7 linked regions of the Homo sapiens genome follow. The protein of the gene in region 5 purifies or fractionates together with the protein of the main gene of each other region. This does not show direct contact. Each region holds a gene or a part of one and is shown on either strand. Other genes may lie near its edges. The genes, in order: MCFD2, RUFY1, ATF2, PLS1, CAPZA1, WASHC4 and ARHGAP1.

Region 1 (3,500 bases), on a different chromosome or scaffold from region 5:
GCCCAATGCCAGCTCTGCTTTGAGACTGTGGGATGACCCTGGGCACTCCAAGTCACTCAAATGGCAGGGGAAGGCTCACGAGGTTTCCTGAAGTGCCTGCAGAGTGCCAAGCAACACGTGAAAGCTTGAAGGGACTGGAAGATTATTCTTGCCTCCCAGAAGTTATGGTCCCCTGAAAGAAATATTTTCTATCAAGAGCACCAGGAAAGGCAGCCAGCAAGTTATATCAGATTATCAGAGAAAGCGAAAACCCTCTAGGAGTTCAGGGGAAGAAATCTCCTCCGAGTGGAGGAAAATCAGAGAAGGCTGATAGAGCTGGTGACACTTCAGCTGGGCCTGGACAGATATGCAGGGACTGAAGGACCACAGGAATGGTGGGAGCAGAGTGGCAGGTGCCCACAAGCGGGAAAGAAACTACAAGTAGTTCAGCTGGGCTGCAGCCTAGAGGGTAGGAAGCAGACAGGACAGAGGTGGCTCCAAGGCCTAGACAGGCTGTACTGGACAGGGCTTTGCACACTAGGCCAGGGCTTGACATCTCCTGCAGAGAAAGACAGGAGAGTCACTTACAATTCATGAATGGGAGGTGAGATCAGAGCTTGGTTTCAGAATGACTCATCTGGCAGCACAGTGGGGAAGGCATGAAGTGGCAAAAGCAAGACTAGAGGCAGGAGCATGGTAGCCAAGGGAGTGGTAAGGCGGGTCAGATCAAGGTCTGCGGCAGCGGACAAGGTTCTGTACCTCCTGGGTGGTAACAGTGGCAAGTAACTACAGTGAGCGGGCACTGGAAAGAAAAGTTACAGAGAAATCAGGATGCCATCAGGAACTCCCAGGGTTTGGCCACACTTGGAATTGTGGTCAATAAGATGACAGTCAGCTACAGAGCAAGCTCTTGGAGGGCAGGGAGAACTTTAACCCCACCAGTATTACCCGCCAAGGGTCAGGCAGGCCTTTAATAATTGTTGATTCAATGGAAAGTCTTGGTCTGTCCTAGGGCTGACAGACTGACCTCAAAAAGGAAGGTGAAGGACAGCCAGGTGACCTACATACAAAAACAAAAGACCTGACCGAACACTCACTTCCCAACAGGCAAAACAGATTCTGCTAGATAACAAGGCCAGGGATTTCTAACAGGTCAATTGTAGTCCACAGCCCCAAACCAGCAGTGGTAAAGACAAACCATAAGGCACTGGTCATCCCCTTTACATGCTACACACAGGGCTCAGCTCAGAAGCTGTAGCTGTCTTTGTGCCTGGGGCTGAGAGGTAGAGGTGTTATAGTCCCTCTTACCCATCCTAAAAGGCTCTCAGGGCAGAACCCTGAAAGTGTGAGTATGCCACCCTACAACACTTAGAAAAATTTCCCAAATCCGTTTTTCCCATTACCAGTATTGCTTCCCATGGCCCCCTCCTTAAAGGGGACAATAGTCACTGGGATGTCTAACTTCCAGGATAGGCCAGGCATGGTGGTTCATACCTGTAATCCCAGCACTTTGGGAGGCTGAGGCAGGAGGATCACTTGAGGCCAGGAGTTTGAGATCAGCCTAGACAACACAGTCAGACCCCCATCTCTACAAAAAATAAAAAATTAGCTGAGCGTAGCAGTGCACCCCTATAGTCCCAGCCACTCAGGAGGCTGAGATAGGAAGATTGCTTGAGCCCAGGAGTTCAAGGCTGAAGTACACTCCAGCCTGGGTAACAGAGTGAGACCCTGTCCTCCACCACCAAAAAAAGGAAGAAACTTCCAGGGTGCTAAAAAGCACCTAGAATCTAGTCTACTTCTAAACAGTGACATCAAAATGCAATCTGTCTCAGACCTTTTATTTTTTAATTTTTATTTTTTTGAGACAGAGTCTTGTTCTTTCGCCAGGCTGGAGTGCAGTGGCGCAATCTTGGCTCACTGCAACCTCCGCTTCCCAGGTTCAAGCAATTCTCCTGCCTCAGCCTCCCGAGTAGCTGGGATTACAGGTGCATGTCACCACGTCCAGCTAATTTTTGTGTTTTTAGTAGAGACAGGGTTTCACCATCTTGGCCAGGCTGATCTCGAACTCCAGACCTCAGGTGATCCACCCGCCTCGGCCTCCCAAAGTGCTGGGGTTACAGGCATGAGCCACCGTGCCCGGCCACCTCAGACCTTTTATATCTGTAGTTTAAAAAAAAAAAAAAGCAATATGTCATACTTAATAGGAAAGAATGCTCAATATATATTGAATGAAAAAGAACAGGCTGCAAAAAAGCAATAAAGAATAATACACTTTTGTAAAATAAAAATGTGTATTTCCTACACAAACTAATAACAAAGATTATCTTGAGACATGAGATTAGAATTGTGATTTTCAGCCGGCATGGTGGCTCGTGCCTGTAATCCCAGCACTTTGGGAGGCCGAGGCGGGCAGATCACGAGGTCAGGAGATCGAGACCACCCTGGCTAACACGGTGAAATCCCGTTTCTACTAAAAATACAAAAATAAAAATTAGCCAGGCGTGGTGGCGGGCACCTGTAGTCCCAGCTACTTGGGAGGCTGCGGCAGGAGAATGGCATGAACCCGGAGGTGGAGCCTGCAGTGAGCCGAGATCTGCTACCATTTTTTATGAATATGTATTCAATGTAATCTATCCCATAATTTTGTCCCAATACTATATGGATCGGATACAAAAGGAGTTTCCGGTTAATTCTTATCTCCACAAAATAATTCAGAAACAGTCAGAAACTACACTTCCAATTTTACCAAATAAAAGTGCCCAGACCTTGGCCAGGGACAGTGGCTCACATCTATGATCCCAACACTTCGGGAGGCCGAGGCAAGTGGATCACTTGAGGTCAGGAGTTTGAGACCAGCCTGGCCAATGTGGCAAAATGCGTCTCTACTAAAAATACAAAAAAAAATTTGCTGGGCATGGTGGCGTGCACCTGTAATCCCAGCTATTTGGGAGGCTGAGGCACAAGAATTGCTTGAACCCGGGAGGCAGAGATTGCAGTGAGCCAAGATCACACCACTGCACTCCAGCCTGGGCAAGAGAGTGAGACTGTCTCAAAAAAATTTTTTAAACGTGTCCAGACCCTGACAAGGCCACTGCCACTGTACCTGGTACCACAAAACAAGGTTTCAGGTTACTCCTAGCAGTGACTGCCTAGGCCATAGCAGAACAACTTGTTCTGACCACACATCTTAGAGTTCTGGGACAGGAAGGATCAGAGAAGGGAATCAAGCTCCTCCCAAGCCTTTCAGACTCATTTACATCAAATGTCTCTTTCTCCAGTGAGGTCTTTTCAATTCCAAGTCTGGTGTAGGTATTCGTCCTGCAGGCTCCCAAGTGCTTCCCTTCAGAAGGCTCCCGTCCACAGCTGATGACAGCTGCAAATTAATTCTTTTTTTTCTTTTGTTTTCTTGTGTGTGAATGAATTCTTGAAAAACTGCCTGATTACTTGTCAGTGCCCCTTGCTGGATGGGCTTTAAGAGGACTTGGACTGAATCCACATTCCCAGTATCAGGCACAGTGCCT
Region 2 (3,500 bases), on a different chromosome or scaffold from region 5:
CAGGCGTCCACAGCAACCTATCTAGACTGGGACACCAAGGAGGAGAGCTGTCAAGTCAGAGGGGAGCAGAACTACCAGGGTCTGCACCCCATCAGCACCTGCAGCAGAGACAGACAGACTCTGGCGGATGCAGTGGCCAGTTCCCCGAAAGGAAGGGGGCTGTGCTGTGCAAGGCGGGTGAGTGCACCTCTACTGTGCCAGGCTTCCGTTCCCAAACCAGCCCTGCTCCCTCTGGCCTGACTGTAGGCTGACCAAGCGATCCTCTCATTGCCCATCTGTTCCCTCAGGCCCTGGATATGAAGCTAAGGAATAGGAGTGTCCTGGTCACTAGGAATGAACGTGCTTCCTGAATTAACTAAGAGCTCGCTGACACCCCATGTGGGTAGCAGAGATCAGTGCTGGGCCCCTCTGAGGCCGGGCTTCCTGAGAGCTCATCCGTGAACGGCGGACTGAGCTCCTAAATGGCCCACCCTCCGTTCGCCAAAAGGAGGTAGGTTTGGGGCCTGAGGGATGTGGTGGGTAGCCTGGTGTGCCTGCAGTGGCAGACAAGGGGAGTGGGGTTCTTACTGGCTGAGGTGCAGGCCCATTTCCTGGAGGGCTTGTTCCTGCTCCTCGCAGATCTTCTGCAGCTCTGCCTTCTCGTCCTGAAGCTCCCGCAACTCCTAAAATGAACAAACCAACCAGATGCTGGACAGAGGATTACACGGTCCTTTTTTTTTTTTTTTTTTTTTTTTTTGAGACAGGGTCTTGCTCTGTTGCCAGGCTGGAGTGCAGTGGCACGATCTTGGCTCACTGCAACCTCCGCCTCCTGGGTTCAAGCGATTCTCCTGCCTCAGCCTCCCAAGTAGCTGGGACTACAGGTGCCCGCCACCATGCCCTGCTAATTTTTGTATTTTCAGTAGAGACGGGGTTTCACCATGTTGGCCAGGATGGTCTCAAACTCCTGACCTCGTGATCTGCCCGCCTCGGCCTCCCAAAGTGCTGGGATTACAGGCGTGAGCCACTGCACTGGCCTTTAAAAAAAAAAAAAAGATTCAGCAACCAGAGCAACAAGCAGATCAGAATGTTTTTCAAGAGCAAAAGGTGGCCAGGCACAGTGGCTTATGCCTATACTTCCAGCACTTTGGGAGGCCAAGACAGGTGGATCACCTGAGGTCAGGAGTTTGAGGCCAACCCGGCCAACATGGTGCAACCCTGTCTCCACTAAAAATACAGAAATTAGCTGGGTGTGGTGGCAGGCACCTGTAATCCCAGCTACTTGGGAGGCTGAGGCAAGAGAACTGCTTGAACCCGGGAGGCGGAGGTTGCAGTGAGCCGAGATGGTGCTACTGTACTCCAGCCTGGGCGACAGAGCAAGACTCCATCTCAAACAAAACAAAACCAAAAAAAAGAGCAAAATGCAGTCCTGTATTAATGTCATTCAAGATTATTTCTTGCTAGCTTACTCTTGACACTGGGCAGCTAAAAGGCAAGCACTCGACGAGGGCTCTGCAGCTGGGGACAGAGACATGGGACAGGATAGTTACATTCATCAGCCACATTAAAAATAGTTACCCTCAGCTGGGCGCAGTGGCTCACACCTGTAATCCCAGCACTGGGAGGCTGAGGTGGGCGGATCACCTGAGGTCAGGCATTCAAGACCAGCCTGGCCAACATGGCAAAACCCCTCCTTTAGTTAAAAATACAAAAATTAGCAGGGCATGGTGGCACATGCCTGCAATCCCAACTACTCGGGAGGCTGAGGCAGGAGAATCGCTTGAACTGGGGAGGCGGAGGTTGCAGTGAGCCGAGATCACACCACTGCACTCCAGCCTGGGCAACAGAGCAAGACTCCGTCTCAAAAAAAAAAAAAAAAAAAAAAAAAAAAAAGTTACCATCATAGGACAAATGAGGCTTTGCCTATTTGAGCTTCTTTTTAAAAGATAAACATTTTACAAAACAGATTGCTATCTCAAAAAATCTATAGAAGAACTGTACACAAAATCACACGAACCTTGCATCAGCAAAGACTAGTTTGAAAGGTGGTTTCCTGTTCAATTCTGAAAAAGCTGCTTTTTTGGAAAGCACTGGTCAAGGATGATGAAGGGGGTGACCTGGGACCTCATTTCATGGCTAGACCACTTGGAGGCTGGCTAGACCATGTGAGGAGCCCTGCACGGAGGGAGTTCCCCAGGGGGCAACGGCACTGACACCTGGGGCCAGTGCACCTTGAGCCAGTCTGTTAAGGCCAGGATGGAGACCCAGAAAGTAACTGGGGTTTCTGGGACCACTGGGAGCAGCGGTGGAGCTCGGGCCCGAGTGGCGGGGTGGCTCTCTGCACACCCTGTGCCGTAGCTTCTGCTTCCATGCACAGGCTTGCAAAGCACAAAGCTGTGGCTTAACTGGGGTTATTAGACATTGTTTTGTTCCTATTGTTGGGGCGGGCTGTAATTGTGTAATTCGAATCTTTTGACAGAAGCATTCTGAAGCAGAATAAAGGAGGTATGCCCCGTGATGAGGCGGGACTTTCTGAAAGTCCTCTTCTGCCCTCCACTTCCTCCCTTCCACTCTCCAAGCCTGATCTGGCTCTTGAGGAAGCTCTCCCTTCCCCAACAACTCCAGGCACTTTCCAATGGAAATCAAAAGGGCCTTTCCTGACTCGCTCGAATCGTGCAGTGTGTCCATTACCACGTTCAACACAACAAAATCCAGGTCCAGAAGCCACCCTGGCCCTGAAGGCCCCTCCGGGGCAGGTGCCGAGGGGAGGTCTGCTTTGGGCTCAGTTTTCCTGCAGCGCTCGGCAGCGCAGGGGCCTGAGAAGAGGGCACGCCATCCCCACGTGGGAGGAGCCCCCCAGAGCGCCCCAGGCTGCAGTCAGCTCCATCCAGGATCGCAGAGCCTCCTCCCCTCTGGGAAAACAGCCGATGATTTTACATTAGGGCAAATGTTCCACACGGCCTCGGAGTTTCCTGGGAGGTCCAGTTCCACAGCCAGACAGTGAAGGCCTGCTGGACCCCACTTCTCTCGCCCTCTGAAGCCCACAGCATCCAGGCCATGCCTCCAAGTGAGAGGGTCCTCCATGGAACTGAGGTGATGTAGGGGAAGTGGAGGGCTGGGGTCGGTCTGCTTCCCAGGGATGACCCGACCCTGGGCACAGTGGCTGAGGTGAGGCTGGCATGTGGTAGGAGATGTTTACTGGTTCCTCCCAGCTTCCTCTCCTGCGAGCCTACCACCCACTCTCCACACAGGAGCCAATGACCATCCGCAAACAGAACGGATCCTGTCCCTCCACCAGCTGCCCACTCTGGTAAAATAAAACCCACGTTCCTTCCCCTGGCTCCCAGGGCCCATGAAGGGCTTCCTCCTGCCTGCCGCCTGAGGCCGCCTCTTTGCTCCTCACACTGCTGTCTGCTCCTGCAGTCTCCACCCAAGAGGTGCTTTGCAGGGCATAACTCACTGGAGCCTCTGCTCACCGGTCGCTCCCTCCCCAGGCCCCTTGCACACGGGTGAGGACACTGTTC
Region 3 (3,500 bases), on a different chromosome or scaffold from region 5:
TGTATTAGCTTAAGTCCATCATGACTAAATTAGTAGGTCAAATCTAAATGTGACTCTTCTGTTCACACCCAAAGGGTTTGTCTATCTAAGTTCATCAGAAGGCTCTTAACTTACATTAAAGGGAGGGGAAAATCTTAAAAAAATAAAATACATAAGCATAAGTCACTTTTATCAATGATTACTGGAACCATCAGACTTCAGAAAAGTCAACATAGGCACAATCATTTAACATGCACATTGCATATGGCTACTGATCACCAAAAATATACCACACACATCATGCATTTTATTTGCATAGTAATGTTAACCTATTCATCTCAACATGTTAGTGAAAAAAAAGGTCAAGTACTGTGTTTGAATGTGCTCTATTTTTCTACTGCATTAAATGTGATCAGACAGGAAAGTAATTTCTAGAAACCAATTTCAAAACATATTTGAGTTAAAGAGTTACACACAGACAGAGATTGTGCTAAGGCAGAAAGTTTCAGAGAAACAAAGAGCTTCATGCCTAGGAGAGTGAACTTTCGAGGTTGTTACTATTTTGCTTGTTTGGTTCCTTTGGTTCTAGCTCTTAATGTCTAATGTAAAATACTCCAAAAAAAAAAAAGCATTATCTCACTCTTCTGTATAAGTAACATATCTCTAAGTTACTTATGGAACTTAGTTAGGATATGTTGGAAGTTCCCCTACATTTTTCCTACGTATATTGTTTTCGATAAATTAACTTTGTTACCTTCAATTTCTTCATTACAAAAATTTCAATACTGTAAGTAGAGGGAAAACCACCGAATATTTGCTTTATTATCTATCCAAAACACTGCATAGAACAATTTGGTCTCTATACTGATTAATAATTTAAAAGTATTACAGTATTTGGGTGTAATTCCAGACTTATATGACATATAACAAGCTTTACAAGAGAAAAGAAAAATCTGGAGTTAATCTGAATATTTATGATATGTAAATCTGTGATGACACAAAGGATCTGAAATTTATATAGTTTTGTTTTATCATAATACTTATAAAATATACAAAAAAGTAGCAAAATTATACATGACATATATGTATATATACATAGATGTGTGTGTGTATATATTTAAATACCAAAAAAAGGCAGCTAATACAGCATGGAATGACAATCAACCAATGTATGAACTGGGTTTTTCTTTTCACATACAGTGAAAAATAATCATCTGCTTAGGTGATACTGTACGTTCATAGTGTCAACACACAAAAACTGCATTGACTGAATTTAGAGCCTCCTTACTGAGAATATTTTACTAATACAAATGTTTAGTCTGAAAAGAAATATAAACAACTCTAATGAACAAGTCTGCTCACTGTTCTTTCTCCAATGGGAGAAGCTTGATCATTTTCTATCTTCACACAGCCTTGTAAGTCAGTTGTACAAGACAGCTAAAAGAAATGCTGACTAAATACCATGTTAGTTCAATTATTAGTTAAATGTAAAATTTGTAGATGGTATGAATGTTCCCAGAGTTCTAATGAACTTCCACAAAATCGACATTGGAATATAAATTTGAAAACCACACAAAAAAATGAAATGAATAGTCAGAAGGAAACATGAAAATGTAATGGGTAAAATACATGTTGCCAACATTTACTATAATGAAGTCATTGGAATATCACCAGACTATATTATTTACAGAGAATACACAAAAATTGTGCACATTCCAGGTGAAATATGTATACAAGCTATTAATAAAAGCATATACTAACCAGCCACAATGACACTGTCATTACGTGCTGGACCAAATTTCAGTGTCATCTCATGTTTATGTTTATGGACAGCCAAATGATCCTCGTTGGTAAAACGCTGTGGCAAAAAGTTTTAAAATATAGTTAAGATTTTCAATTTGATCAAATAAGTAAAATGATTAGGAAATTAATTTCCACAACATGTAAAACCACCATTAACAGTGAAATAGCAGTTTTTAAACTATAAAAGAATCCGTTATTGTTAGTAGATAGCACACTAGATTGCAAACAATCACAGAGAAACCTATTACTCAAGAATAAGCAATACTGATATATTGCTAGGTCACATAACTCATTTGAGAGCATTTAAAAATAAAATTGGAGGCAAAGAAACTTTATATAAATTTCTTATGGATACTAAAAATAGACCACCATTAATTTGTCTTATCATAGTAGAAACTATACTCCATGGTTCAATGACTTTTCAAGAAAGTACTGTAGTATTAATATTTACCTAGACTTAAGGTTACTTACCACTTTTTAAAAGAGAATTTTCTTATAAAAGTATTACGCCTGGACAAAATTTAGAAATAAATCTGATTTTTATGTTACCACATAAAAAAGAATGCCTTTGTTTTAATCCAGCAAAGAAATAGCAACCGATACAATAACAAAACAGCTCATTTTAAAATAAAAAAATTTAAAGTAGCCAAAATAATTTTTTCATGAGAGTTCTTACATAAAAATGGAGCAAAGTTGTTTTTAGAACATTTTATTTTTAAAGTTATCCATCATATTTTTTCCTACCTCTAACTTGGATAAGTTTTGCATGCCAAAGGTAACATTTATGATTACAACATAATAAATGCATTATCTCCAATGTCTGAACATCAACATTTTTGAAGATGCTCATTAAGCAACATTTATAACTGAAAACAGGGAGCTGTTATTTCAGAGCAATAATTTTAAAATGCTAAGTTAACAGATCTCAATTCACTCTTTATAACCTTACAAGTGAGGATGTTAAAATATATATACTTGAACTTGGTTTGCCCAAACCATCAAAATGAATTCCATTTCTTGTGGTCTCCTTCCCCTACCCAATTCACTACATCCTTTCATGCAACTAATAATAGTAGCTTTAGGGTTACCTTAAACACAATGTAAAAGAATGAAACATTTTTAACATTTTAACATCTTTGGCCCAGTCCACTATCCGTCTGCCTGTAGAGGTGAAAATCATCTCATGTGTGCGGCACAATGCCTTGGTTATAGCACCTATCATATTTTCATATGTCTGTCCTTTTAAGTAGGCTGAGCTCCTACCGTGGTCCCCCAAACTTAGCATATAGTTAAGTACTCAATAAATGCTAACTGAAAGAATGAATTCATTACAATAAAATAGATGAATCTTAAAGATCAATCTGAGGGGGCTAAAAAAGACCCTAAACCATTGTTCATTAAGATGAATTCAACTTCAATTTAATCTTGCTACATTTTATCACTTAGTCTTTGGATTACTTCACATGCCAACAGAAAACTATTATTTTATAACCTCTCTTCAGAACCTGCCTGTATTACCACTGAAGGAGAGTGTTCAGATGCAACAACACTTCCACTACTTGACATATTCATTCACTCTTCAGACATTTACTGGGCAGCAACTATAGGCAGTAGGACCACAATCAAACTTTTCCCCACCCAGGTACTGTCTTCCTATTACTTTATCATTATAAGAATCTCCCCCAATTTTGGAGAAATAAGAAACAGTGGTACTTTTG
Region 4 (3,500 bases), on a different chromosome or scaffold from region 5:
GTGCTCTTTTGACTGTCAGCATATGCCAGGAAAGGAAGCAACAACCTGTTGTTAGATTTTTAAGCAATCAATTATCAGTTTTACCAGCTTATATTTAGAAATCTACAAAATAAAAATAGATATTCATGGTGTAGGAAGGACTGATACAGATTCTGACCTACCAAGCATACTTCCTAGGAATCTCATTCTTTTAGCATAAGTTATAAATACCAGGGATGGTTCTATCTAAATCAGGATGTCCAGTCTTTTGGCTTCCCTGGGCCACATTAGAAGAAGAATTGTCTTGGGCCACACATAAAATACACTAACACTAACAATAGCTGATGAGCTAAAAAAAAAAAAAAGGTGCAAAAAAATCTAGTGTTTTAAGAAAGTTTACAAATTTGTGTTGGGCCACATTCAAAGCTGTCCTGGGCCGCATGTGACCCACCGGCCGTGGGTTGGACAAACTTGAATTCTAAACATTAAAATTTGGTCAGATAATAGACTGTATGAAAATATATCACGTACTTAAAGTGCGGCGTCCGTAACATTTGGTTTTAAAGGCAACTTGAGTCATTACTAATTAATTATATCTCACATTATTATAATGACATATTTCAGAAACACAGTATTGCAACGCTCTGTAAAATGTGCAAATCATTTTAAGTAAAAAAATTAGGAACTTAAACTTATGGAAAATTTTGAATATATTCAAGAGAACAGACTTAGTATACTAAACTATCAGGTACTCATCCCTCAGTTTCAACATCTGCCAATTCATGGTCAATCTTATCTCGTTTATTCCCTATTTCTCTCCTCTCCTATATTATTTTGAAGCAAATCCTAGACATTACTTCATGGATAAATATTTCAATATATATTTCTAAAAGACAAAGACACTTTTAAAATAAAACCACAATACCTTATCATACCTTAAAAAAATTACAACAATCTGTAACATCATCAAAATATCTAGTCAATGTTGACATTTCCACTTGCCTCATAAATGCCATTTTTTTCATAGTTTATTTGAATTAGGATCTAAAATAAGGTCCACATGTTGTCTTTATTTGTTTGTTTTTTTTTTTTTTTAGATGGAGTCTTGCTCTGTCGCCCAGGCTGGAGTGCAGTGACACAATCTTGGCTCATGGCAACCTCCGCCTCCTGGGCTCAAGTGATTCTCCTACCTCCACTTCCTGAGTAGCTGGGATTACAGGTGCACACCACCACACCTGGTTAATTTTTGTGTTTTTAGTAGAGACGGGGTTTCACCATGTTGGCTAGGCTGGTATCAAACTCCTGACCTCAAGTGATCCGCCTGCCTCTGCCTCCCAAAGTGCTGGGATTACAGGCATGAGCCACCACGTCCAGCCACATATTGTCATTTTTTGATGTCTACAATGGTAACTTTTCTTTGTTAATTTAATAATCTGTTGCTTTCTCTGATTTCATTTATATGATTAATTATTTTGCAACTCTGGTGCACAGAATTAGGTAGGTTATCTTTGGTCATGATATACTCATATGGGTCTGTGCATACCCATTTTTAAATTTATTTTTGTGTGTGGTTGTTTGTTTTGAAATTGTAACAAGCCTCATGAACTCTCAATCTAACAGGAAAACTAAAACTTTGACGTGACATTTTCTGTACAGTTCTTCCCTATCCCACCTCGGTTTTCGCCCAGTGTGGTAACCACAGTCTTGAATCTTGTGTTCATTGTTGTTCTGCTTTTCTTTTTATGTAGTTTCCCTTCATCCAAATGTATCCCTTACAAAATTAAATTCTTCATTTTACTTTTTAACTTCCTTTAAAGTTTATCATGTTATACTTAAATTTCTAGTACTTCTTTTTGGCCTTGTATCTCTAAGAGTTACCCATATTGGATGTCATTGTGTGAATATACAAATTCATTCATCTACTCTCCTGTTTATAGGTATTTGGGTTGTTTCATTTGTTTCCAGGGTTTTGCAATTGTGAAAGGTGCTTTTCCCTATGATTTTAATTTTTAAAATATGTATTTCAACTTGTTTTTCATCAAGAAGAGCCTTCTGGAAATGTCACTCAGTGTACAGTGGGTATGATAACTATGCCTGTTATCCAGAGGGCACTCTACTAGCTGGTCTTGAATAAGTTATCTATAGTGCAACCAGTAGGAGCTTACTGATACAATATTTGAGGATTTTGCTGAGTATTTTAGCAAAAAGGGTAAAATATAACTCAGTTATCCCAGCAAGGAAATTCAGAGACTTTTTTCCTTTTAACTTAAAAGGCACGGGGGCTGGGCTTAGTGGCTCACGGCTATAATCCCAGCACTTTGGGAGGCCGAGGTGGGCGGATCAGGAGTTCGAAACCAGCCTGGCCAACATGGCAAAACCCTGTCTTTACTAAAAATACAAAAATTAGCTGGGCATAGTGGCATGTGTCTGTAATCCCAGCTACTCAGGGGCTGAGGGAGGAGAATCACTTGAACCTAAGAGGCAGAGGTTGCAGTGAGCCAAGATCACGCCACTGCACTCCAGCCTGGGGAACAGAGCAAGACTCTGTCTCTAAATACATAAATAAATAAATAAATAAATAAATAAAGGAATGGGTAAGTTGACTTGGAATTACTACACATTTTGATCTTATTTTGAGTTATTATTTGATATATTTGTGGAAAAGTAATTGCTTATAAACATGTATACCAATAAAAATTATGCCAATTAAAACTTCAATTGTAACCATTTTTGTTTTATTGTTTAGGAGACAAATGACCTGAAGCGTGCTGGACTCATGCTTCAAGAAGCAGATAAACTGGGCTGCAAACAGTTTGTTACTCCTGCAGATGTGGTTTCAGGCAATCCTAAACTTAATTTAGCTTTTGTAGCTAATTTGTTTAACACATACCCGTGCCTGCACAAGCCGAATAATAATGACATCGATATGAATTTACTGGAAGGTGCGTTCTTTCTGCCTTTAATTGACTTGCTATATTTATCTTCTTATGGTATTGTCTTACTTCACTGTCAGAGATAGGGGATTGTGGTGGGAAATGCAATTTAGTGTGTGTAGGTATGTGTATCTATTGAAAAATTAAAATTATGGAAGGTGGTTGCTGGTTTTGGTTAAAAGAGAATGCTGGGGTAAATCTTTTATTTCTCCATAAGAGGTTAGTGAAAACTATCATACATTTAAAATATTCTCATAAATGATCACATAACAGCTCTACCACCAACATGGACAATGAATTATCTATTAGAATAAAATAATTATTTGTAGGTGTTTTTCTCCTTTGAAAGGTCCAGTTTGACTCTAGTATTGTTCTCTTTTTAAGGTTTTTAGTGTACATGAAAAAAATTACAGTGTTCGTTATTTGTCTTTTGTGTGGTCTATCGTTATCTGTCTCATAATATATAATACTTTCCTGTTTTGCTTCATGAAATGCAGATTTGACCCCTCCTAATGTAGGTACTGTATTTAGTACTTTTCTATACTCTATAAATATATTCATTCTGAATGTTCTTTTTATTAGTACCAT
Region 5 (3,500 bases):
CTTTGAGTGAAGAGCAGTATGATCCATAGACATTGCTCACGCTTTAAAAAGCTGTTCTTTGCAAATCTGTGGATATTCAGAGTCTATAAATAGTTGAAGGTAGAAACCAATTTTAGAAACCCTAAACATTCTCAACATAAGATCAAATACAGCTGAATATCTTACCTTGAGAACCAAGGCTGAAGCGATGAATCAAAAAGGAGAGACTCAGACAATTTTAGAACAAAACAGGTATATTTCTATTAGACTACCTGATACAGAAGATAGTGTGGTATGGATGGATAGTATGAAGGACAAATAATACAAATATATTTTATTGAAATAAACAAAAATGCATACACAGCTCAATGGGTCACCTGGAACAAACTTGCTTGACTATATTACTGAGCAGAAACAAAACGGAAGCACAAACACCTTTCTTTTTTTGACATGTATCTGGAGATAGGTAGGAAGACACTACTTGGTTTTTTAAAAAACTGACCTTCCCTTAAGGCCTGGTCATAGAAGTGTAAACAATGTAAATGAATCCACCATTACCAGTTGTCATATCATATCTATGTCACCTGTGTATTCTGAGATTACACACATACCTGCCAATATACCTGGGAAAGGTTATTTTATCACAGTTACACTTGAGTTCTTGGCAGGCAGGACTGAGGAAGAGTAATTTGAAAGAAGTTTTACATCCTATTTAGAAGAAATCACTAGTATTTCCTTAAATAACAGGTTACAATAGAAAGATACTGCCTGGAAGTTATCCTTTCACTTTGGTTCATTTTTAGTTTTTCTTTATGATTTACATAGCTGTTTAATTCATTTGCTTATAGTACAATCCTGCCATAAAGTATTAAAGCACAAGATACCTATTATTCCTTCAACATCTGCATTTTTCAAGTTTTATACTCTACATCCACAGTACGTCAGCAGTTCTTGAATGTTTAAAAAAATAAATGGGTAAAATGCTTCTAAAAAATGCAGATGTTTATAACTACAATGGTACTAAGATGGGAAGGAGACAATGAGAGAAGGGATAAAAGCAAACATGTTCATGTGCAGGGAATGTGGTTCAAGTCTTTGGATTTAAAAACAAGTTCCCCAGAGAAGCTGGCACTTCCTTTGCCCTCCAAAAAGGACCTGAAAAGTCCCAATCCAAACTTTAGAAAATTAGTTATGAGATGCAATAAATGATGATCAAAGCAGTCAGAGGGAGAAGGATGAATGTGTCTTCCATTTAGCTAGAGACTGTAGCATAGCCTCTTTAGGTGTTGGTGGATCAGTAAAAACGACTGAAGTACCAGAAGTGCTTGGAAGGATAGGGGTACAAAGTAATGACCATAATACCTTGTCTAAATCAGTAGCAGGGCTTCATGGCTAGGAAACTTTTTTAAACAGTAAAATGTCATTAGGATAGATCACTCTCTCACCAACATTAAATGTGGCAGAATTAACCAAAAAAAAAAAAAAAAAAAGAAAAAAAGATTTACACGTAGATATAGCAGTAACAGAAAATTACAAGGCAGAGAACACAAAAGAATCAAGACAACGCTATAGGTTCAACAGTATTCCATGAGGCTAGAAAACCGGTTAACTTTGAAAGCCCTAGCAAAATATCACTCTTGTTTATAAATCACTTATTTATCATATGACCACACGTTGAATCCTTGTCTTTCCACATACTGAAGAATCCTACATTCAGCCTTTAAGCATTCTGCATTTCTTTGCCAATCTTGTAGCTGAGTATCTTGTTCCAGTCGATTTTGGTGCGGGTAACTGGAAGCTGCCGGCGCAAGGCCTTGAATGTGGTATCTGACATTGTTTGATAGTTTTCACTAATTGCTGTCTGCAATAGATAATTGAAGATGAGTTGCTTGAACAGAAATGGGGCTGGTTGTGAACAGAAAAGTAATGCTATAGTCAATGGATATGCTTGAGTCCCCTGTGAAGGATAGACAGGATATATTATTTTCAATGAGCTCCTCTCCAATCTCTGAAGTAGGTCAAGAAGTTCACCTATATTATTTCTAAAATGAGGGCTACAGTCCCAAGCAATCCTCAAACCCTGACTGTAAGCAGAATGCCAACTTGGAAGGTCTGCAAAGTCTCCCACATTTAGTAAAACTGAAGAGCATGTATATTTACATTAAAGGACACAAGGCCTAACAAAATATGCTAACAGCGAAATAATAAGATAGTAGATCTAGGAAAATTAACTCCAAATCTTCTTACCTGATACTCATTTTCTGCATTCTCTATGATTTTAATAAACTCCTTGGCAGTTTGGGCTTCATTCTAATGAAGGAAGGAAGAAGGGGAAAATCAGATTTTTTTTTAATGTGTAAGCAGTAAGATCCTGAAAGTAAGTCCATCTTAACTAACATTTGTATGACAATTTCTAGTTTTCCAAGTGTTCCCATGCCCACTACCCTCCTTTGATTCTCACAACAACTCTATGGAAGACACTATGTTATAATCATAACCCCCATTTTGCAGATGAGAAAACAGAATCCTCTTAAGCAACTTGACCAGAATTATACAGCTTTTGAATGATAAAGATGGGATCTGAAATTAGGTCTTCACCAAAAAAACCCATGCTGTTTCCACTCTACCACAGTACGCCCAAAAGACATCATCAAGTCTTGAAACCTTGATGCCTTGAAAATATTTCTGGTTTAAAATGGTATGAACAATGCCCTTGGACACATCAGTCATATACATAAGCTCACATATGCCTTTATTTGCCACTTATGATGTTAAACTAGCCAATCACATTTTGTACCACGTGGTTCAAGTCTAAAATGAAATGAATCTCCCTCTTCCTGTTACCATTAAGTACAACAGAATTAAAGGGAAGAGGGTAGGATTTAATATCTAGAGCTGCAGTCCTAAGACAGACTATGAGGTCAAAACTATTTTCTACTTTCATAATAATACTAACACAAAGTTATTTGCCTGTTTCACTTTCACTCTGTAATGTGTGTATGATGTAATTTCCTAGAAACTACATGATGTGTGATGACTTTATCACTTTCAGGGATAATGAAAGGTATGAAGCAGAGGCCAGGTACAGTGGCTCATGTCTGTAATCCCAGCACTTTGGGAGGCCGAGGCAGGTGAGGTCAGGAGTTCAAGACAAGCCTGGTCAACATGGTGAAACCCTGTCTCTACTAAAAATACAAAAATTAGCTGGGCATGGTGGCAGACACCTGTAATCCCAGCTACTCGGGAGCCTGAGGCAGGAGAATCACTTGAACCTGGGAGGTGGTGGTTGCAGTGAGCCAAGACAGTGCTCCAGCCTGGGCAACAAGAGCGAAACTTCATCTCAAAAAAACAAACAAACAAGCAAAAAACAACTAATATCACAATAAAGTCCGCCATCTTTTAATACACAATTTGTGAAGACACAGACTAATGCCATTCTTCCCACTATTTTTTTCTTTTGATTTGGAAAATATATTCACAAAGATGTTACTTATTAACAAGTAATGGGTTTGTTATCATTA
Region 6 (3,500 bases), on a different chromosome or scaffold from region 5:
GGCCTCACTGTGGGAAGAAGAAATACAGAACTATTATTTTAAGTCCCAAGATGTTCTAATAGTCTATTTTTGGGACTAAATTTACTAATATTGATCAGTTTTCTGTCCATGAGAAAATAAGTTTATTCTGAACTCCAAGAAAATTTTCTTAGAAGTGTCTTACAGTGTTTCCTGCTTTTCAAGTGTTCTTATCTAAACTATTGAGAGATGGATTTTTTTCAAAGCCACGCTTCTTTTGAGAAAGGAACCAAATAATTTTTTGCTTTTTAGGCATTTGGATTCAGTCCTCAGTGATCACACACGAAATTCTGCCGAAGGCACAGAATATTTCAAAATGCTTGTAGACGTTTTTGCTCCAGAATTTCGAAGGCCAAAGAATATACATCTCCGAAATTTCTATATAATTGTTCCCCCTCTGGTGAGTATTTCCAGAACCTAAAATGAATTTTTTTTTTAAAAAGAGTATGCACAAATAGATCTGGTTTCTTTGTAACACGAAATGCATACAGACTACACTATTAATTTCCTGGTTGCATATAAAACTAAATGTGATCTCAGTGAATGTGACATAGAATTTTTTATTTGTTAGCCATGCTGAAGGACACTTTCTTATTGTTAAATTTTTTTTTTCTTCTGAGATGGGGTCTTGCCCTGTCACCCAGGCTGGAGTGCAGTGGTGTGATCATGGCTTACTCAGGCTTGACCTCCTGGGCTCAAGCCAGCCCCCTGCCTCAGCCTCCCTAGTAGCTGGGACTACAGGTGTGCACCACCATGCCTAATTTTGGTAATTTGTTTTCTTTTTTAAGATATGGGGTCTCACTGTGTAGCCTAAGCTGGTCTTGAACTCCTGGGCTCAAGCAGTCCTCTTGCCTTGGCCTCCCAAAGTGCTGAGATTACAGGCATGAGCCACCACGTATGGCCTAAGATAGATTCTTATTTTTTTTAAATAATTACTGGAGAAATTTGAGTATTTTTTAAGTTATATGAGTATATGCCATAGAATCTTTGGGCAGAATTATTAATATATAATCATTTTAAGTGCTTAATGTAGAATAACTTTAGCTGTTATTATAGTTTTTTCTAACACATTTCTTAAAGCATATTGTTTCAAGATAACTTCTTTCTATTCAGTAGTAAATACTAACATCTGGACTAAATTTTTAATGCTTCTTAGAGTATGTAACGTGTTCTTGCTCTAACTCTGTAGTTGCTATCTAAAAATAGTTCAAGTTATCAAAAATTGCATTATAAAAACAGCTGTTCCATTAGGGAAAATGGAGTTAAGAATTTTTGAGAGGTATATATTAGTAATAAGAGTTGTTTTGGCTTAAGGTTCCTATAAAGTTTAAAAAAAATTGTAAGTAGATAGCTTTAAAATCTAAATATCACCCAGCAGATGAAGCTCTTTATTATATTTAATTTTGATCAAGAATAGTGACTTTTCATATTGCTGCCCAAGTTGTTAACACATCTTCTTACATATTAAAACCATTATTACCTATTGAAAGTAGCTAATAGCCTATAAACAGCTTTTTTCCATGAATTTTGTTTCTTTTATACATTTGTTAATTTTCTATCATAATTGTATTTTAACTATGATATAGCAAAAAATGTTCATATTCATCTTGTAAGAATCTTTTCATCTTAAGATAGTGTCAAACTGGAGGGAGAGTGTCATATTTGGTAATACTATAGTTAACTTGGGGTGAGTTCTCACCATATTTTTTTAATTTGAAGGGCAATGTACTCAAACCATTGTAGACAGCAGTTAACCCATTGGTAAGCTTAGGAAAAAGTCTGGAGTTTTACAAGGCAGTTGTCAGAATTCGCTTAGTGATGGAGAAAACAAAGTGGATTAAAAGCACTACAAAGAAGTATAGAATACTGTTCTTGTACTTGTGTTTGTAGTGTAGTTCCAGAAAAAAGACAAGCATAAATGAGATTTCTAAAAAAGATTGAATTAATGATTGATAAAAAATTCACAAACAGGTGATTAATTGCTGAATAAGTTTCACAGTCAAAAAAATGAAACTTGGTTTTGTTTCCAGCGTAGGCTATTATAGTACTTAGCACACTGTATATCATAATTAGTTTTTAAACACTTCTGCATTTACTCTTCTAGAGCTGTGCTATCCATGTATAGTCACATGTGGCTACTTAAGTTAATTAAAATTTCATAAAATTAAAATCATAAGGCAGGGCGAAAAAAATAAAAATACCTTTTTAAAAATTAAAAATTCAGCTTGTCAGTCACACTAGCCTCATTTCAAGTGCTCAGTGGCCGCTTGTGATTAGTGGCTTACTGTATGTACTGGATGGTGCAGATACACATTTCTGTCCCTGCCAACAGTGTTGCTCTAGACTGTGAACTCTAGATAGAAATCATTTGTTTAATCATAAGTACTTAATAATGCCTGGTATATTGTAAGCTTCAGTAAATCTTTGTTGAATAAAAGATATGATTAGATAAGTCATTTTGGAAGAGCTGAATTTTCAAGAGACGTACTGTTTTGAGGATTCACACTTAAGAACATGAAAAGAAATAGTATTTTCGAATGAATTAGGTAGGTGTAAGTAAGGACTGTCTTGCATATGTTTTTAAGAGTACTTGTGCTTTGAAATAAAGCAGGCCTACTTTGCTAACTCCAGCATTCACTTAATATATGACTTTGGGTGAGATAATAAATCTCCCAAGCCTCGGTGTCCTTCTCTGTAAAATGTGCATAATATTTTATAATGAGATATACAAGGCACTGTTCTTGGGCTAAGTAGTGATTGAGGGAGTGCCCATATTTAAAGGACTTGGAAAGGAGATCCATGAAGATACACTTGTATAGATTGTATCTTCACCAAGAGGGTACCTAAGGCAAATGTTTCAGATGAAAAGGACAGGAATCTAGATTCTATTCTATTCTATTTATAGTGATTCTATTTATAATTTTTAAAATGTCTGTTATAGGAATTCTGAAGATTTTCTTAGCAAAATTGTTTTTCTAACATGTTGTTACATCTTTTTAGACCCTCAACTTTGTAGAGCATTCCATTAGTTGCAAGGAAAAATTAAATAAAAAAAATAAAATTGGAGCTGCCTTTACTGATGATGGCTTTGCCATGGGTAAGCTTAATGGAATTGTTTTTCCATTAATTTTATATTGACCTTGTAATGGATTCTTAGAAACATCTGCTTGAGAATAGGTCTATATGTTCTTTATAGATTTTTCTTTCTTTTTTCTTTTTTATTTTTTTGAGACAGAGTCTCGTCTCGCTCTGTTGCCCAGGCTGGAGTGCAGTGGCACGATCACTGCAAGCTCCGCCTCCTGGGTTCACACCATTCTCCTGCCTCAGCCTCCCGAGTAGCTGGGACTACAGGCACTCGCCACCACACCTGCCTAATTTTTTTTGCATTTTTAGTAGAGACGGGGTTTCACTGTGTTAGCCAGGATGGTCTCGATCTCCTGACCTCGTGATCTGCCCGCCGCAGCCTCCCAAAGTGCTGGGAT
Region 7 (3,500 bases), on a different chromosome or scaffold from region 5:
CCCCCACCAACCCTTAAGACTCAATGCAGGCATAATCGCCGCCTGGAATCCTGTGTCCTCGCCCTCTCTCCCCAGACAGGTTAGCTGCCCCTTTTCATGGCTCCCAGCATAAACCGTCACCCATCACTGTCCTGACCCTTCACTCTCCTGTAGAATTGTTTATGTACCTGTCTCCCTGACAGGCTTGTGAGCAGCTCAAAGACAGAGGCTGTGTCTCATTGTCTTTGTTTGTTCTTTTTCTTTGTTTACTCCTGGCAAGCTGTGATTTTTTTTTTTTTAAGAGACAGGGTCTTGCTCTGTCACCCAGGCTGAAGTGCAGTGGCATAACTGTAGCTCACTGCAGCCTTGAACTCCTGGGCTCAAACAATCCTCCTGCTTTAGCCTCCCATGTCCTGAGTAGCTAGGACTACAGGCACATGCCATCCCACCTGCTTAATTAAAAACAATTTTTTGAGACAGAATCTTGTTATGTTGCCCAGGCTAGTCTTGAACTCCTGCCTCAGCTTTCCAGTAGCTGGGATTACAGTTGCGTACCATGGCACCTACAGTCTCCAGTACTGGTCCAGTGTCTGGCATGTGGCAGGTATTCAATACGTTTTGGTAGCCTGCACAAAATCGCAGGTCACCATTAAACTATGGGATGCCTGGTTCTAGTTATATTTCTGTGTTTGTTCTTCTTTTTTTTCTGAGATGGAGTCTCTATCATCCAGGCTGGAGTGCTGTGGAGTGATCTGGGCTCACTGCAACCACCACCTCCTAAGTTCAAGAGATTCTCCTGCCTCAGCCTCCCAAGTAGCAGGGACTACAGGCAGGTGCCAGCACACCAGGCTAATTTTTTTTTTTTTTTTTTTGAGATGGAGTTTTGCTCGTTACCCAGGCTGGAGTGCAATGGCGCGATCTCGGCTCACTGCAACCTTTGCGTCCCGGGTTCAAGTGATTCTCCTGCCCCAGCATCCTGAGTAGCTAGGACTACAGGCATGTCCCACCACACCCAGCTAATTTTTGTATTTTTAGTAGAGACGGGGTTTCACCATGTTTGTCAGGCTGGTCTCAAACTCCCGACCTCAGGTGATCTGCTCGCCTCAGCCTCCCAAAATGCTATGATTACAGGTGTGAGCCACCATGCCCAGCCTTAATTTTTGTATTTTAGTAGAGACAGGGTTTCACCATGTTAGCCAGGCTGGTCTCCAACTCCTGACCTCAGATGATCTGCACGCCTCAGCCTCCCAAAGTATTGGGATTATAGGCATGAGCCACAGCACCTGGCCTCTGTGTTTGTTCTTGATTATGCTTTGGTTATGGGTCAGACTGCTTCAGATAGTGAGTTTCCCAAAGCTCAGGACAGAACGTCTCCAGATTTGCAAGTAGAGAATCCTCTACCAGCTTGTCTGCAGAGGAGGTGCAGCTCCATCCCGGCAGGTCTGTTTTGAAGGACCAGGTGGTACCTGCTCTCTTTCGTACCCTAGCCTAGATCCTGAGGTGCTGAGATCCCGGAGGCCAGCTGGGGGTGGCTCTGGGGCTATGTGCCTGCTCTGATTCACTTCCCACTGGCTCTGACAGTGGAAGGAAAAGCAGACTGGCAGGGGCCAGGGACAAAGGGTTAGACTGGCAAGCCCAGTCTCACTAGTCTGGAGCTTCAGAAACCCCAGAGATGCCTACCACCAGCCTGGGAAGAGGGGGCCTCATCTGCCTACCTCCTTCTAAGCGAGGAAATAACCAGGATTTGGGGGAAATGCTCGAGGACAATGGGGGCTACCAAAAGGATCTTTCCTTCCAGCCCATGAGTCCCCGCACCTCACATCTGCACCAGCAGCAAGGCAGGCCTCATTGGCTGGCAGATTTGAGGATTCAGCCAGGGCAGAAAGTCTGTGAGGCCCCTGGGTCTAAAATATAAGAGGTAGCAACTGGTTAGGGAAGCTGTTGGGGGGAGGGCTGGAGGCCTGTGGTGTCTCCTCTCAGCTGGCCACAGCACTTTGTAAGTGGGAAGCTTTGGGTTCTGAACCAGGGCTCCACCAATGTGCTCAGCAGACACAGCACCTCCATGATGTTATATGACAAATATTACAAGCATGTGCACTTTTTTTTTTTGAGACAGTCTCGCTCTGTCGCTCAGGCTGAAGTGAAGTGGCGTGATCTCAGCTCACTGCAACCTCTACCTCCTGGGTTCAAACGATTCTCCTGCCTCAGCCTCCTGAGTAGCTGGGATTACAGGCATGCACCACCACACCCAGCTAATTTTTTTTTTTTTTTTGAGACGGCGTCTCGCTCTGTTGCCCAGGCTGGAGTGCAGTGGCACGATCTCCGCTCACTGCAAGCTCCGCCTCCCGGGTTCACGCTATTCTCCTGCCTCAGGCTCCTGAGTAGCTGGGACTACAGGCGCCCGCCACCACGCCCAGAAAATTTTTTGTATTTTTAGTAGAGACGGGGTTTCACTGTGTTAGCCAGGATGGTCTCGATCTCCTGACCTCATGATCCGCCCGCCTCGGCCTCCCAAAATGCTGGGATTATAGGGATGAGCCACCGCGCCTGGCCTTAACCCCAGCTAATTTTGTATTTTTAGTAGAGACGGGGTTTCTCCGTGTTCATCAGGCTGGTCTCGAACTCCTGACCTCGTGATCCACCAGCCTTGGCTTCCCAAAGTGCTGGGATTACTAGGTGTGAGCCACCGCACCTGGCTGCACTTTTTTTTTTTTTCAGTCAAAGAGATCCCCCCTATCCTGGGGATACCTTTCATAGTTGCAAAGTGGACTGTGACCAGTTTTAAGAACCACTTCACTAGACTGTAATCTTTTTTTTTTTTCTTTGAGCCAGGATCTTGCTCTATCACCCAGGCTGGAGTGCAGTGGTTCAATCATAGCTCACTGCAGCCTCCAACTCCTGGACTGAAAGGATCCTCCCACCTCAGCCTCCCAAGTAGCTAGGACTACAGGCACAGGCTACCACACCTGGCTAATTTATTGTTATTATTTTTGTAGAGACAGGGTTTCACTATGTTGCCCAGGCTGGTCCTAACTCCAGGGTGGCCCTGGAGTTAATCACCAACAGGTCTCCCCAGGCATTCTGGGCCCCCTCAAACCAGCCCCACCCACAACCGGACCAGCAGGCCTGGGACCTGGGAGGTAGGGCTGGGCTGATGGAGCCAGTCATGTGCTACAGCCAGCTCACACATTTGTTAAGCTGTTCAACTGTCAGGAATTTTGCAAGCCAGTTGACATCATGTTGGTAGCTAGAGAGCTGGGAGGCAGAAACTGCAAATGCTACAAATCATGGCCTTTTTCCCCCTCTCCAGAGAGCCATTTACCAGCACACCACTGGAAAGAACCCACTGGGACTGAGCCAAATCTGACCCTGGGGCATGACAACTATTCCCGGCAGGGAGAGCTGAGGCTATAACCCACCCTCCCTTCCTACAAGGGCTTCTCCCGGACATCTCCACGGTCTCACCAAATGAGTGCCTGGTGATGCCAATCCAGCCTCCTCTCAGCAATCAGGGAGGCACA

What was found.
Region 1: the proteins of CAPZA1 (region 5) and MCFD2 fractionate together in Homo sapiens (co-fractionation; one large-scale study listed by BioGRID). This does not show direct contact.
Region 2: the proteins of CAPZA1 (region 5) and RUFY1 purify together in Homo sapiens (affinity purification with mass spectrometry; 2 studies listed by BioGRID, with this or other methods). This does not show direct contact.
Region 3: the proteins of CAPZA1 (region 5) and ATF2 purify together in Homo sapiens (co-immunoprecipitation; one large-scale study listed by IntAct). This does not show direct contact.
Region 4: the proteins of CAPZA1 (region 5) and PLS1 purify together in Homo sapiens (affinity purification with mass spectrometry; one large-scale study listed by BioGRID and IntAct). This does not show direct contact.
Region 6: the proteins of CAPZA1 (region 5) and WASHC4 purify together in Homo sapiens (affinity purification with mass spectrometry; 2 studies listed by BioGRID and IntAct, with this or other methods). This does not show direct contact.
Region 7: the proteins of CAPZA1 (region 5) and ARHGAP1 fractionate together in Homo sapiens (co-fractionation; one large-scale study listed by BioGRID). This does not show direct contact.

What each region holds. Positions count from the first base shown.
Region 1 is NC_000002.12:46,909,307-46,912,806, forward strand, and holds part of MCFD2 (multiple coagulation factor deficiency protein 2 isoform A precursor), read right to left. Parts: intron 1,568-3,500; exon of another isoform or gene 1,474-1,567; intron 1-1,473. UniProt on the Homo sapiens protein: The MCFD2-LMAN1 complex forms a specific cargo receptor for the ER-to-Golgi transport of selected proteins. Plays a role in the secretion of coagulation factors.
Region 2 is NC_000005.10:179,599,054-179,602,553, reverse strand, and holds part of RUFY1 (RUN and FYVE domain-containing protein 1), read right to left. Parts: intron 3,287-3,500; exon of another isoform or gene 3,165-3,286; intron 3,070-3,164; exon of another isoform or gene 2,919-3,069; intron 2,482-2,918; exon of another isoform or gene 2,456-2,481; intron 663-2,455; coding exon 568-662; intron 491-567; exon of another isoform or gene 288-490; intron 178-287; exon of another isoform or gene 1-177. UniProt on the Homo sapiens protein: Activating adapter involved in cargo sorting from early/recycling endosomes. Regulates retrieval of proteins from endosomes to the trans-Golgi network through interaction with the dynein-dynactin complex.
Region 3 is NC_000002.12:175,119,704-175,123,203, forward strand, and holds part of ATF2 (cyclic AMP-dependent transcription factor ATF-2), read right to left. Parts: intron 1,838-3,500; coding exon 1,741-1,837; intron 1-1,740. UniProt on the Homo sapiens protein: Transcriptional activator which regulates the transcription of various genes, including those involved in anti-apoptosis, cell growth, and DNA damage response.
Region 4 is NC_000003.12:142,686,893-142,690,392, forward strand, and holds part of PLS1 (plastin-1), read left to right. Parts: intron 1-2,725; coding exon 2,726-2,921; intron 2,922-3,500. UniProt on the Homo sapiens protein: Actin-bundling protein. In the inner ear, it is required for stereocilia formation. Mediates liquid packing of actin filaments that is necessary for stereocilia to grow to their proper dimensions.
Region 5 is NC_000001.11:112,668,332-112,671,831, reverse strand, and holds the end of CAPZA1 (F-actin-capping protein subunit alpha-1), read right to left. Parts: intron 2,290-3,500; coding exon 2,227-2,289; intron 1,937-2,226; coding exon of another isoform or gene 1,841-1,936; coding exon 1,700-1,840; 3' UTR 216-1,699; downstream 1-215. UniProt on the Homo sapiens protein: F-actin-capping proteins bind in a Ca(2+)-independent manner to the fast growing ends of actin filaments (barbed end) thereby blocking the exchange of subunits at these ends.
Region 6 is NC_000012.12:105,159,731-105,163,230, forward strand, and holds part of WASHC4 (WASH complex subunit 4), read left to right. Parts: intron 1-270; coding exon 271-418; intron 419-3,018; coding exon 3,019-3,115; intron 3,116-3,500. UniProt on the Homo sapiens protein: Acts as a component of the WASH core complex that functions as a nucleation-promoting factor (NPF) at the surface of endosomes, where it recruits and activates the Arp2/3 complex to induce actin polymerization, playing a key role in the fission of tubules that serve as transport intermediates during endosome sorting.
Region 7 is NC_000011.10:46,690,620-46,694,119, forward strand, and holds part of ARHGAP1 (rho GTPase-activating protein 1), read right to left. Parts: intron 1-3,500. UniProt on the Homo sapiens protein: GTPase activator for the Rho, Rac and Cdc42 proteins, converting them to the putatively inactive GDP-bound state. Cdc42 seems to be the preferred substrate.